2 linked regions of the Homo sapiens genome follow. The protein of the gene in region 2 interacts with the protein of the main gene of each other region in a biochemical or structural test. Each region holds a gene or a part of one and is shown on either strand. Other genes may lie near its edges. The genes, in order: SRPK1 and SUDS3.

Region 1 (3,821 bases), on a different chromosome or scaffold from region 2:
TGGAGTGGGGTGGGGTAACAGAAGGACTTTTCATGATCACGATTACCATTCTACTTTCGTAAGTATATTTAAACTTTTCCATAGTAAAAGGTTTTTTTAAATGTAAAAAAATATTCACTGAAGTGTTGTATCAATCTGGGTACAGAATTATGGATGTTTTGCATAACTAAGTCCAAATTCTCATTCATCCTCCCAGTCACTTCAAAACACCATTAAGGCAAGTTTAACTTACCACCCAACAAGCATTTCCAAGGTCAGCAATCTTCACCTTGAGCTTTTCTGCATTTTTTGGCTCAAGGGGATTAACAAGAAAATTTCCAGCCGTGGATTTTCCTACAGACAACAGGCATCATCAATAAGACTGTTCAATGAACAGAGAAATACTCAATGAGTAATAAAGCTCTCCAAGGTAAGAGTAATACAGTCAGCAATACCCAAGTGACAACTTACATTTTCTGAGACAAAAAGAGCACAGCAACGCCTTGAGTTTCCAGAATTAAAAACCTCTGCCCTCACAGCAACAAATGAAGTGCTGTGTACTCAGTACATGATGGATAAAGTTAGCTACAGATTACAATTTAAACGTAACTTAGACACACCTGTTGTAAAGCTATAGTTACAAAAACAATCATACTTTTAGTCTAGAAATCTGTGAATGTGTTGTGCAGGGAAGGAGTGTTGAGGAAGTATAGCTGCATAGGTACCTTTGTTGTCCAGTGGTCCGTTATGTTCTTGCTCTTGTTCATCTTCACAGGGTATCTCTGCCCGAATGCTTTCTTGAAGTTGGCTAATGTGTTGTTCACTGAATGACTGACCTACAGTTGAGGAAGACTGGCACACCATGGTGTCTGACACCTCAGATGTTATAGGTGTACAAGAGTCTGTTTCTTGAGATGTGCTGCTGTCTCCATTTTGGGAGCTTAGGAAACTAGATTCCTGATTCAAATTTTGGACATCACAGTCATTAGCATTATGTAGATCCTCTTTATGTCTCAATGTTTCATTATTACTGTTCTGAGTATAATTAATGACTTCAATCACTCCATTGCAATTAATTTCTGCTGCACCACCCTCTGTATCACGTTCCATAAGCGTTTGATCCTGGCCAATGGTACTTGACTCTTCTAAGGAACAAACGAACAAAAAAAGATATATGCATATGTGTGTGAGTGAAAGAACAGAAACATTTCTCACAAGATTAAAACATTTTCTAGAACTTATACTGAGTGACATAAAAACATGACTAAACATCTAAAACCTATTTCCGGAAGGGCCAAGATCTTACTTTTACCCAATTGTTAAATGAAATCTATGTTCCATTTCCTGAGAAAAGTTACAAATTACATTTAAATATTACCTGCCTAACATTTATGACAAGATCCATATTCTTATAAAGATACCCCCAGAGATGTGTTGTATGTATGAAACCACTGTATTATATAGCAATGATAAATTAACGTTAAAGTGTGTTGTACAGTAATTTTCGTGATGTTCTATTTATACCAAGTTTTTCTTGGGTCATTTTATTAGGTGGGTTCTCTTTCAAGGGTCTTTCAACAGGACTCTCTGATTCTTCTTGCTTGTTTGGTCTTTTTTGCCCAGGGCCCGACTCTTTCTCCATTTCCTCAATTTCCTGCATTCGCTTCTCTAGTAATTCTGCCTGGCGCTTCTGCTTCTTCTTCAATTTCTTCTTCTTATTCTTTGACATTTTGTCAGCCTGGGCGGAGATTACAAACAGATAAAGCCTTCAGGTGGCTAATTAATTACCCCCAGTTGGAGATAGTTGTTAACTTTAATTACTTCCTAATTAAATTTCACAAATCTTTCCCTAACATAGCACTTAAGTCTTTCATTAAATTAAAAGATGCGGGATACTCTTATAAACCCAAATAAAAACAGAATAAATAACAAAGTGTGGTCTTCTGAGCAGTCCGTGGGGTTGGTTTACATTCAGACAAACTCGAATTTTTTAGAGGCCTCACCAGTACAAATGTGATGAAGGTGCATGGGAATTTACTGGAGAAAATTATAGAAGCGCAGGAATTTTTTTTCCTTTTGGTTCTCAAACTTGAAACAAACTGTTACCATCCACAACAGAAGAACCCATGCCCATAGTCCATAGATCAAAATTAAATATAAAAACACCTTATACTTACTGGTTTAGGCTGGGGAGCAGTACTGACTGAAAAGAAAAGAAAACCAAGTAAGAATTCTGGCATTCATCAGGCAATATAAACTAAGGCTCAGATAAAACACTCTACCAGAATGAAAAGTCTTTCTTATGTAGTCTACATTGCAGAGAAAACTATTGTTTTTAAATGACTTAAGTAGAAGCTATATTATTACCATTTTTAAAGAAAATAATGAATAGAAATTGCCAAACTTAAAAAAAAGGGATAAATAAAATTCTTCCTCCCCAGGTAAACTAAAGTTGCTAAAAATCACCTATTTTCCATTCCCATGCACTGCTTAAAATAGAATGGGACAAGCAACAACCTCTTCACCTCAAATGCTACCCAGAATCTGTCAGTTTTAAAAGGGGAGTCTAGGTGACATCAAGAGCTATAGTAATTTGCTCTACAGCATGTCATGGATAACAGTGTAGCTTAGCTGGAAGGTAGGATCTTCAGTCTTCCTCTTTTTAAAATATTAGTATAATAACTGTGGTTAACAAAAAACACATAATAAAAATTTATACTCTAGATAAGTGTACATTCAGTGGTTTTAACACTATTCACACTGTTGTATAACAGGATCTGTAGAATGTTTTCATCTTGTAAAACAGAAACTACATCCATTTAACAACCAACTCCCCATTTCCCCCTTCTTTAGTCTTCCTTTTTAAAGAAGTGTATAACTAATAACTCAACTTGAGGATCAAGCAAGTTCCTAAAAAATGACACACTACTAAAACTAAAATCTGTATCTCAAAAGAAAAAAAATCATAAAGCAGCCTTTATTTATTTATTTAATTTTATGTCTTAGACAGGGTCTCACTTTGTTGCCTATGCTCGAGTGCAGTGGTACTATCACAACTCGTGGCAGCCTTGACTTCCTAGGCTCAAGCAATCATCCTGCCCCAGCCTCCTGAGTAAATGGACTACAGGCACGCATCACTATGCCTGGCTAATTTTTTTAATTTTTGTAGAGACAGGGTCTTACTGTGTTGCCTAGGCTGGTCTCAAACTTCTGGGCCCAAATCATCCACCCACCTCAACCTCCCAAAGTGTTGCGTTACAGGCATGAGCCACTGTGCCTGGTCCCGCAATTTATTTGGTATATAATATTGTGTGGCACACTACTAACTGCTTTACCATTTAATCCCAATAATTCGCAGTTGAGGGAAAATAAAGTAAAATAACTCAGCTAAGGTTTCTCAGTCTAGGATGAAGCCCAAATTCAAACCAAGTCTGTCTACTCCAGTGTTTAAACCTAAACTATTAATAGCAATGTTATCTTGTCCCTCTACAGACTACCAGTCCTATAAATGAGCATGTGTGATCACAGTTAGAGGTAAACACTTCAAAAATCATCAACTCATAAGAAAAAATATTTTTAAACAATACACACCAGCTTTTATAACATACAACACAAAGACACAATATCTAGTTTTCTCCTTCCCCTATGGAAGTAACAGTGAGAATGTCTCTTGGAAGCTGATAATGTTTCTTAAATATGTTATTGTTGAAATGGATTGAGTGGTGTTTAATTCCCTGGTAACAGAATAAAAATAGAAATTTCTTTTTAACTTCTAATGATAGCGAAGTCCCTAAAAGAAAATACACCTGCAGATCCGGAAGGCGGAGGAGCTCCAGATCGCT
Region 2 (4,300 bases):
TTTGATGGTGTAGGAGATTTGCTCTTCTGTATTTAACTTTTCATCTTGTTCCCTTTCCTCTCCCCTGCAGATCTGGGTGAGGAAGACAAGTGACAGCACCAAGATGAGGATCTACCTGGGCCAGCTTCAGCGCGGGCTCTTCGTGATCCGCCGGCGCTCAGCTGCTTGACTTTCTACAGTGCTCTTCTCTTGACCCTTTTTCTGGAGTGGGTTTTATTTTTGTTTTGTTTCGTTTTCTCCTTAATAGAAAAATGTTAACTTACTGGGAATAGCTACTCAGCCTTGGAAATGGAGAGCACTGCAGTGAATTCTTTAGGGCACTTTTGTGGCCGGATGCTTCCAACTTTGTCAGTCTTTTCTGCCTCAACTTCTTCCAGACATCAGTCACCATGAGACTGTTTTACTTTCAGGCGTATTGGGGGGTTTGATTTACTTTCCTTTTATTTCTTTATTTTTTGCTTATACTTGTTTTTGAAAACCTCCTCTGAGTTTGAAGGGACAGCTATTTTTATTGATTATCTTTAAGTCTCTCTACCATGGAGAAGAGCAGGAAGGGATACACTCTCCAGTGCATTTTCATGTTTTGAATCTGATTAGTGGATCACGTAGCTACTTTCCCTGTCGCGTCCAATTCACTATTTGCCCAGAAGCTTGGGGCAGAGGTCCTAGCAGGAGATGATGAATTCTCGTGGCTCTCGGCCTTCTCAGAGAAATAAATGCTTTGTGTAACATCTGTGCACACCATCCATTCCGCTCGCTGAGCGATGGAAAAGCTTGCCTGGAAGACTATGTGCACTGAAGTAAATGGGGTTGGGGGAGGGGACATTTCATATTTATAATGTGCTGAAGGTACCATATTTTAAATGTTATTTAATGCAGGTGATTTATTCAAACATTTGTTCTAGCTTAAGCTGGAATAAGCAGTGGTCATTTCAGAAGTTTTCATTTGTAATTCCTTCCTCTCCCTTGTTCCCAAGTAGGTAGTAGTAAGTATGTGCCACAGGCTGATTATCTGGGTAATCTTTTACGGGTGGGAGGTGAGATTGATAGTGCAATAATCAGTGATCTATAGACCCTCATGCACGATTCAAGTTTCACTCTTGTGGCTGATGCCATTATTGCACATTGGCCATTCCAAACCTGTGGAGAACTTTGTTGTCAGGCCCTGAGCGCTCACAGCTTCATTTGGCCCAGGTTGAAGACAAGGAAAGCTCTGCTGTGGCTGCCTCTGGACTGACACCCTCCCTAATGAGTCCTGATGAAACAGCCTTTCCTACATCCTTCCCTCACTCCCATGATTGGAGAAATGATTCATTGGGTGATGAGTGTTGGGGTTTTCTATACTCATGTTGCCATCTTGAGATGTTCAAAAAATTTGGGGTTAGAGCAACTGTTAGCGTCTCTATGAGCAATCAGTAGAACTTACACATCCTAGGAAATCTTTCTTTGTAAGTAATTCTTTTGGTCTCAAGTGATTCTCTTCATGTTGTCTCTTGATGTACATACCCCCAAGCAAGTTGGGGGGACTGTGATGACAATTAAATCACCTTCTCTGAAGTTCTGGCTCTGCAGAGACCAAACCTTACTGACTTGTACAGACTTGTACAAGTAAAGACTTATACAGATAGATTTTTGTTTTAACTTACAATCCGTTTTTTCCTCTTTTTTTTTTTTTTTTCTGGTGTTGGAGTCTTATTTAGAAAACAGGATAAATGACGCTGTTATCAAAAGTTGCCTGGGGTTCTGTATTTCTTCTCTGCCCTCCAATCCCCGACTGCTATGATGTTTACTACAGTGAACCCAGCCCATGGTAAACACAGGCTTCACCTGTTCTTGTTTGTTAGCCTTGACTGTGAGGCAGGACTTCCCTCGCTTGAACTGTTACACATACGATGTGTGTGTCACATCACATATTGTGCAGCTGTTGGTTTTCATGTAGTGCCCTGCGATGGAAATTAGATATATTTCATGTATTTTTCCATTGAAGGTGGAGTTTTTCAATGATCATGTGTTTTGTCCTCCTAAACAGTATACCAAAGTTTGTTTTTATAGTTGAGGATTGTATTGATAACCACTGGGGTTCCGCATTGAAGCAGGAACAAATTGCCTCTTTTTCTGGCCTTCTCTGTGGGACCTCTGCTTTTGTGAAGCAACTATTTATTTGAAGACCAGGGTATGGGCACTTTTGCCTTCTCTCCTCTCTGACTTTTGAGGGTATTGAGGGCGCCCTTAGTCATAGTCTCGACTCCGCCATTGCCTTCTCCTCGGCGTCCTCACAACTCTTAATTGGGCCTAGTGAAAATGGGGGCAGGTGAGAAGTCCATTTTGAGAATCAGCATAGTAAATTACATTTCTAATCCCAGAGGACTTAATATTTTCTTTTGTCACCCCAGAGGTGAAAAATCAGCAGTTGAAGCCTGACAGGCCTCAGTGGTGACCAGGAACAGAAGCAGCCTTCCTGTTAGTAGATGGGGGTACTTCTGTGGTGGGCAGAAGCCTTACTAAAGGGGAAGACAGACTTTGAAGTTTCTAGACGAGAAGGAGGCTAGCTTCTAGCCTGGGTGGCCATTATTCCAAAAGGTCATTGTTTCTCACTAGACCCCAGGGCACCAGATGAATTTCCAAGTTTAAACTCTTTCCTGCAGGTGATTACTTTGAAAAAGGTTGGTCCAGACCATTTTGATCAAGAACCTGTATATGTGTTGTGTTAGAGGCATCTGCCTCAAGTCTATGTACAGTGTTTGCTGCGGGTGTGTTCCAATATTCATTTTACCTCTGCTTGGGGGTTTTGTGTGTTCCCCTCCCCCCATGCCCTGCCTACCCCCTTTTCCCTGAACCACGTCCTTTTGAATAATTTCCAGATGGATTTCTGTAGCCATACCAAAGCCAGGGTGTTTTCATTCATGCGGATACTAGTATTTATAGATGTCTGACTACCTAACTTAATTTTTGTTTTTGAACTTCTAATTGGGGCCAGTGTAAGGTCGATCCCAGAGGCTGATCTGCAAATCAAGCTACATGTATTTGTGTATAAGACCCTGTGTTCAGGACTGGGTGACTTTTCTAAGAAATATGGGGTTTAGAATGGGGTTGACTGTATTTTTTAACCTAATTCTGGAGAGAAGATTGTATTTTTTACAGTTTTTTGGGTTTGGCTTCCTTCTCACATTTCTTTAGCTTTGAATTTTTACTAAATAAATTTCCTCCTGATTAATTTTTTTTTTCTCATCTGGGAATTTGAAATCTCGGTGCTTACTGTTACACCAATTTGTCCAAAGAGTTGAAATCACTTTAATGCCAGAACATGGTAAATTTGCAGCCATTTCAAGCAGGTGATGGTCTTTTTTTATAACATCGTTAACGGGTACCATTAAATATTCTGAGAGGTGAATGTAAAATATAAAAGGTATAGGTTTTTTTTTTTTTTTAAAGAAAACAATAAACTTTCAAAGAGAAAACCAGCATGAAGTCTGTATTGTATCCATTGACTTGATAAGTGATAGAAATTTATTTTAGGTTTTTGATCCATTGCTTATGGGGAAAGGAAGTTAGGGCAGAGGAAGGGATATTCTAGACATTTAATTCTTAGTGAAGACTAAGATACAGAATGATGTCAGGCTAATACTCAGTTTTGTAAAGAGCAATCTGGGGTGTTGACCCTTAAATGTTTGTGCACTCTTCTTGTTGCAGATAAAAGTCATTAAAAATCAAGTGAATAGAATGGATCTTGGGTGGAAAAACAATCTTGAAATAAACTTGTGATTGAGGATATTGTTCATTTGGTGCATGATTAAGGAGGATATTGTTCCTGGCTTTTGAGATAGTGCCTACCAATCTTAACCAAACAGTGATGGTATTTGTACTGCTCCCGGGGTCAGCCAACAAGCCTGCGTGCTGCCACAGGTGACCGACCTGTGACCCAGTTATGGCACCCCTTTGGGAAAGACTGCTTTATGCTTTAGATGATGGAGAGGGGTGGTTTCTGTTTTTAAAATGTTTGAATTAGACAGAAATGTGCACAAGTTTTAATTGTAGAAGTTGTTGAAATCTCTCAAAGTGAATTCATCCATGTAACTATTATAGCATCCAGATCAAGAAATAACATTCCCAGAACCCACAAGCCCCTTAGACTTTCAGCTACTCCTCCCAACTAGTTTTCTCTATTTTAAGTACCTTAACCTTCAAGCTCTTGAGCTGCTTCCTTCCATGGTTGTTCTAGAAGAGCCAGGTACCTGGTATAGGCTAGGGATTGACCAGGAATGCAAAGAGCTAGCAGCAAAGGATATGACTAATTGGGGAG

What was found.
Region 1: of the proteins of SUDS3 (region 2) and SRPK1, one has a biochemical effect on the other in vitro, tested with the Homo sapiens proteins (one large-scale study listed by BioGRID and IntAct).

What each region holds. Positions count from the first base shown.
Region 1 is NC_000006.12:35,868,778-35,872,598, forward strand, and holds part of SRPK1 (SRSF protein kinase 1), read right to left. Parts: coding exon 3,786-3,821; intron 2,183-3,785; coding exon 2,157-2,182; intron 1,718-2,156; coding exon 1,504-1,717; intron 1,125-1,503; coding exon 705-1,124; intron 334-704; coding exon 233-333; intron 1-232. UniProt on the Homo sapiens protein: Serine/arginine-rich protein-specific kinase which specifically phosphorylates its substrates at serine residues located in regions rich in arginine/serine dipeptides, known as RS domains and is involved in the phosphorylation of SR splicing factors and the regulation of splicing.
Region 2 is NC_000012.12:118,414,265-118,418,564, forward strand, and holds the end of SUDS3 (sin3 histone deacetylase corepressor complex component SDS3), read left to right. Parts: intron 1-70; coding exon 71-169; 3' UTR 170-3,769; downstream 3,770-4,300.